2 separate regions of the Homo sapiens genome follow, and region 2 is linked to region 1. The links come from fine-mapping of genetic effects on gene expression. Tissue or cell type: whole blood. Region 1 holds a variant in brackets; the other region holds the start of a gene. All regions are shown on one strand. Distances are between the middles of the regions. Region 1 overlaps PRR5 (proline rich 5). Region 2 holds the start of ARHGAP8 (Rho GTPase activating protein 8).

Region 1 (2,896 bases):
TGGGGTTCTCGCTGTGGGCGCAGGCTGGTGTCCGTCTTTCCTTTCTTTATCCGAGTGCTGAGGGCCCTGTGCAGGCCCTGCAAACCAACAACCCTGTTTCAGCCCGTCGGGAGACTCAGGAACAGTGAGGAGCGCAGGGCAGTGACAAAAGCCACGCGCTGGGTGGACCAGGTCAAGGGTGTCTGGCGCGGGGACGGCCGAGGCACAGGCATGGAGGCAAGCGTGTAAGGCAGCACAGCTGGGTCACGTGACCCATACCGGGTTTGGATTCCCTGGTGGATGAGCGACGGCAGATCCCAGGGCCCAGCAGAGGACCAGGAGCTCCCGCCCAGAGTTCCCAAGTTTCTGGCTTCCAAGGAGTTGCTTGGCTGCAGCTGGAGCCGATTCCCTTAAGCCACACACAGGCCATCAAACTACAACCCCGGCCGCGGTCCAGTCTTCCTCCCCTTCCTAGGGAGGCAGCCCTCCACCTCAAGGCCACTCCTCCAGGCTCTCCGCTTCCAGGACCGGCTCTGCCCAGGGGCTGAAGTCCAAGGCCTCCCTGGAGGCTGAGAAGGGGCAGGGGGCAAGGTCCTGGGGCTTCCCCACAGGGGGCCATCACCCACCTCTGGTAGAGGCTCTGTAGGGACAGCTGCAAGGAGCAGGCTCAAAGTGAAGAGCTCCCAGTGGAACCCAAGCAGGGGTAGGGAGCAGGAAGGGGGAGGCCCCTGAGGCCGCCCATCAGGATGTGGAGGTGGCTATGTCCCCACTGCATGGGGCCAAAAGGGACCACAAGTTCCCCTGAACAGACCACACTTTGAGGCCCTACTCAAGGGCCACTGCCTCCATGCAGCCCTCTCTGACTGCCAAGGTGGAATGAACCCTTTCTTCCCCAGGACACTCCTTCACAATGACATTAATCACACTCAACTGTCACCCTCGGGTCCGTGTCTGTGTCCCCAATTGGGCTGTGAGTCCCTGAAGGGCAGGGCCAGGTTCTCCTCCATCTCTGGGCTCCCAGAGGTCACCTGGGCCTGACATGTAGAGAACACTCAAGTGGACAGAGCCTGTTCAACCCCACATTGCTAAGACAGGGGTGCTGAGGCTGGAGAGGAAACCCTGTGTCTGCAGCTACATGGGAACTGGAGGCCAGGGCCTCAGACTCCCAGCGTAGAGCCCAGTGCCTGTCCCTGAGACCTGGGGAGGCCAGGAAGGGCTGGCGAGGCAGAAGAGGATGCTGGGCCTCCCAGGGCTGTCCTCTGCCCCTTCTGCTGGGCAGGCACCCCTGCTGGGAGGCCTGGCAGACCTGGCTGT[C/G]CCACGCAGAGCTCCTTTCAAGCCACACAAAACTCCCTTCTCCGAGAGCCCCGGCTCCCCTAGGCCAGATCTGGTGGGAGGTACAGGCACCGCCAGAATGTGCCGCATCAAGCGAGGGGCGTGGGTGGCCATCTTCGTCAGGTGCCAAATGCTCACAGCTCTGTCCTGCCAGTCTAGATGTTGCCTCCTCCAGGAAGCCTTCCCAGAACCCCCATGTCTCCCCGACGGTCTGATGGTTTTCATGGCCTCTCTTTGTGTTCCTGTCTTGGCTGGCCCCACCCAACATGTTCAGTGGACGTGAGGAAGGACCATGACACGCAGCTCCAAGGTCCCCTGGAACATGCCAGGCCTCCGGGCCTGTGTCCTTCTCTGTGGAGTGGGCTAGTAGCTCTTTTTCCCAGGGTCAGAGGGAGACCTGGAGGAGGAGCCTGGGGCAGCAGAGTGAAGAGTATGGGTTCGGGACCCGGTGGCCTGCTTGGCACCCTGGCCTTGCCACGGTGCAGCTGTGTGGCCTGGGCAGGACACCGTGCCTCACTTTCCCCATTCATTCAGTGCTAACAACGGTGGCTTCTTCACAGGGTTGTGGAAATCAAATGAGTTAGTAGATGTGAAACACTCGGGGCAGTCCAGCACGGAGGGACGCACACACCCGGTGCCTAGTGCACAGGTGCTCAACACACGGGTACAGCGCAGGCCCGATCCCAGCACAGCCCGAGCAAAGCAGCATCCGTGGGAACTGAGTGGACCCCCTCACCTGACCCCGCTCCCAGGGCAGCTCGCTCCTGCAAGGATGCGCACGCTGCTGCTGCTGCCCGAGGCTCTCGGCCACGGGAAGCCCAACCTGCACAGTGAGGCCAGCGGGGACCTCCGGGCCGTGAGAAGGGCAAAGGGTGTGTGCCCTAAAGTCAGGCAGACCTGGGTTTGAGTCCCGCCCCCACCCCTGATGTGCACTGTAGCCTTGGGCAAATCACTTATCATCACTGTACTCTCCCACTCAGGAACAATAACCTGAAGGTCCCAGTGGGTGGCTGTGAGCCTCGACAGAGAAAATTCAGCTGAGTCCCCCACCCTGTCCCCTCCTCTGTGAGTATCGGTGACCTCAGCCCTAACCGACTTCTCCTCTGACCCCCAAAGACCAGGACAGGGGCTCTCCCAGGCTGCGGGGACAGAGCTCACTAGGGCCAGAAAGTCCCGTGGGCAGGGAGGGGAAGCAGGGGGCTTTTCCCCGATGTCTCATAGCCCTCCTGGGCTCCAGCAAGTTCGGGGGGCAGACCCTCTCCCAGGGTTCCCTCTGGGTAAGGATCTCGGCCCTGCTGCCCTAAGGCTATACGTGTTCCTTCCAAGCCCTCCGGACCAGAGAGCCACACCTTGCACCCAGAGGCCCCCAGCACGAGGCCCAGCAGTCCAGCAGCCAGCCAGGACCCAGCATGGCCCAGAGTGGCCGCCAAGGGGCCCACACTCACCCTCATAGAAGCGAATCTTGTCCCGAAGGATCACCATGCCTTTTGTCAGCAGCTGGTTCTGAAGGTAAACACAGAGGGGCTGTCACCGCCCTTGTGGATGCCCGGGGGTGTCCTGGCCAGCAGGGCCCCCGAGAGTCCAT
Region 2 (2,896 bases), 25 kb before region 1:
AGTGAGCTGAGATCGTGCCATTGCACTCCAGCCTGGGCGACAAGAGCGAAAACTGCGTCACACACACACACACACACACACACACACACACACAAAGTTTCAATGACCCAATGATGTTATCCAAGTAAATTGGCCCACCCCGTCAGGCACTCCATGGACTTTTCCACCCGTACCTCACAAGCGAAGTATCCCTAGCCAGTAGGTGCCATTCTCTTCCCCATCCACCTCCCATCCACCTTCCAGCTCAATGGCCACCTCCTCCAGGAAGCCCTTCCTAAGCTCCCACAAACCCTTGGATTCTCTCTACACAGAAGCCAGACTCTGGGCCCCTGAGGGCAGGGACCAGGCAGCTGGCTGTCCACAAGAATCAGCTGGGCTCAGGCCCACATCCCATGTCCCTCTTCGCCCTACCCCCAACTCTGGCGTTGGTTTGGGGAATGGTTAGTCAGTGAATCGAATGAGGAGTCCACAAACATGATCCTAAAGCTGCCAACAGAGAGGCCAACCAAAGGACATCGACTTCTGAAACGGCTGAGTCTTAAGCATTGAGTTCTCAGCTGGACAAATGCCAACACTGCATTTCACAGGCAAGCGAGGGACGGCACAGAGCTCTCTGGAATCTACACAGCCTCTGTCACAAAACCCTGAAGTCGGTGGCCAAGGTGCTGTCCCCATCCCGCCAAACAATCCCACCCTCCTTCCCGGGTGGACTCTGCGGTTCCTTCTCCGGGGCCTTCACACTCCTCCCAAGGCAGCGGAGAAATTTCCAAGTCAGGGTGTGGCAGAGCCCGAGGGATTCTCAGGAGCCCCCCCACCCCCCACAGGATTGAGGGAAAGTGAAAGGCAGGGCCTCCCTGCCTTCCTGACGACCTCCGAGGCTGCTAGCGGATTGGTTTAAACTTTGGGCTTTTAGGCCGGGCGCGGTGTCTCACGACTGTAATCCCAGCACTTTGGGAGGCCCAGGAAGACGGATCACCTGAGGTCAGGTGGTCGAGACCAGCCTGGACAACATGGTGAAACCCTGTCTGTACTAAAAATACAAAAAATTAGCTGGCATGGTGTCAGTCCCTGTAATCCCAGCTACTCGGGAGGCTGAGGCACAAGAATCGCTTGAACCCAGGAGGCGGAGGTTGCAGTGAGCAGAGATGCAACACTGCAATCCAGCCTGGGGACAGAGCAAGACTCGGTGTCAAAAAAAAAAAAAAAAGTTTCTGCTTTTAACTCCCGGGGGGTTCCACCGCTGTGTGTTGAACCGGCCAGCCCCCCACCCCCTGAGTTTGAATCAGCGCAGCACCTGCCCCGGCCTCCGTTTTCTCATCTATGAAACGGGAATGACCTCACCCACCTTGTAGGTTTGGGGTGTGTGGGGGCGGGGGAGGTGCCTCCCCCAGGCGCTGACCCGACCTAACCTGAGACCCCAGGACGGAAGCAAAAAAGGAACATTTGAGCTGACACCGTCCGGCCAGACCAGACCAAAACGCAGGCTGAGAGAGGCGAGGGCGGGGAAGGCGGTGCGGGGTGAGAAGGAACAGGACAGGGGAAAAAGCAGAGGAGGGGAGTGTGGGGGGGCGGGAAAGAAAGGAGGTGAAGGGAGAGGGAGTCTAGAACCCACAGGGGACCCGGAGGCTGCGCGCCGGCCGGAGGGTCTCCCCCCGGCCGCACGTGGCGTCGCGCCCGCCTGGGCGTCCCTACCCGGCCAGCGGCCCCTTGTCCCCGTACACGCCCTGGGAGCCCCCGCGGCGCACCCCCCCACCCCGAGCACGGCCTCCTCCCTGCGCGCTCCCTCCCGCCGCCGCCCGCCTTACCTGGCCACGGACCCCGCCGGCCCCCACCTGCGTGCCGGGTCTGCCGCTCACCTGGCCCCTCCCCGGACGTGGCTCCCGGGCAGGCCCCGCCCCCCCGCCCCTCCGCCCAGCCCCGCCCCTCCGCCCCTGCTACCCGGCGGGAGCCATTTCCCAGGTGCACGAGCTGACCCTGGGTCCACCTGTGTGTCGGGGGGACAGGGCGGGGTCGGGCGGAGCACACGCGCTCAGGAGCCCCTCGCACATCGCACCCTGGGCACCCCGATTCCCGGCTGGGCCGCGTCCCCGTCCCGCACGGCACCCATGCCTGGGGCGGGCACTTTCTTGCTGATCCATTTCCCCATTTCTTATTTTATTTATTCATTATTTTACTTTATGTATGTATGTATTTATTTATTTATTTTGAGACGGAGTCTCGCGCTGTCGCCCAGGCTGGAGTGCAGTGGCGCGATCTCGGCTTACTGCAGCTTCAACCTCCCGAGTTCAAGCGATCCTCCCACCTCAGCCTTCATAGTAGATGGGATTACAGACGTGCGCCGCCAAGCCCGGCTAAGTTTTGTATTTTTAGTGGAGACCGGGTTTCACCATGTTGGCCAGGCTGGTCTCGAACTCCCAACCTCAAACGATCCTCCCGCCTCCACCTCCCAAAGTGTTGAAATTACAGGCGTGAGCCACTGCGCCGGGCCCCATTTTTAATTTTACTTTTTTGAGACAGGGGTCTCGCTCTGTTCAGGCTGGAGTGCAGTGTCTTGAACTTGGTTCACTGCAGCCTCTACCTCCTGGATTCAGGCGATCCTCCGGCCTCAGCTTCCCGAGTAGCTGGGACCGCAGGTGTGCACCACCATACCCAGCTAATTTTTGTAGTTTTTGTAGAGACAGGAGTCTTGCCATGTTGTCCAGGCTGGTCTGGAACTCCTGGGCTCAAGTGATCCACCCTCCTCAGCCTCTCAAAGTGTTGGGATTACGTGCCTGAGCTACTGCACCTGGCCCCTTTCGTTAGGGGTGTACAAAGCGTGGCAGAACTGGGAGAATTGGAGGGACTTGAGAGGAAATTTTCCCTAGGGTTTGTTGAAGGATTTGTATCTGAGGAAAGC

What was found.
Region 2: it holds the start of ARHGAP8, and the variant in region 1 is fine-mapped to the expression of ARHGAP8 in whole blood (TOPMed, PIP 0.90).

Annotation. Positions count from the first base shown.
Region 1 is chr22:44,726,495-44,729,390 of GRCh38, reverse strand. PRR5 (proline rich 5) reads right to left here. Exons shown (of 8, transcript NM_181333.4): 4 at 2,757-2,814. PRR5-ARHGAP8 (PRR5-ARHGAP8 readthrough) reads right to left here. Exons shown (of 15, transcript NM_181334.6): 4 at 2,757-2,814. Among named protein-coding and RNA genes, the nearest start is that of ARHGAP8, 25 kb to the left of the region's middle. The variant C/G (reference allele first, on the strand shown) is at 1,294.
Region 2 is chr22:44,751,537-44,754,432 of GRCh38, reverse strand. It overlaps ARHGAP8 (Rho GTPase activating protein 8), which reads right to left and starts at 1,858. Exons shown (of 12, transcript NM_181335.3): 1 at 1,806-1,858. The region is part of intron 4 of PRR5-ARHGAP8 (PRR5-ARHGAP8 readthrough); the gene reads right to left.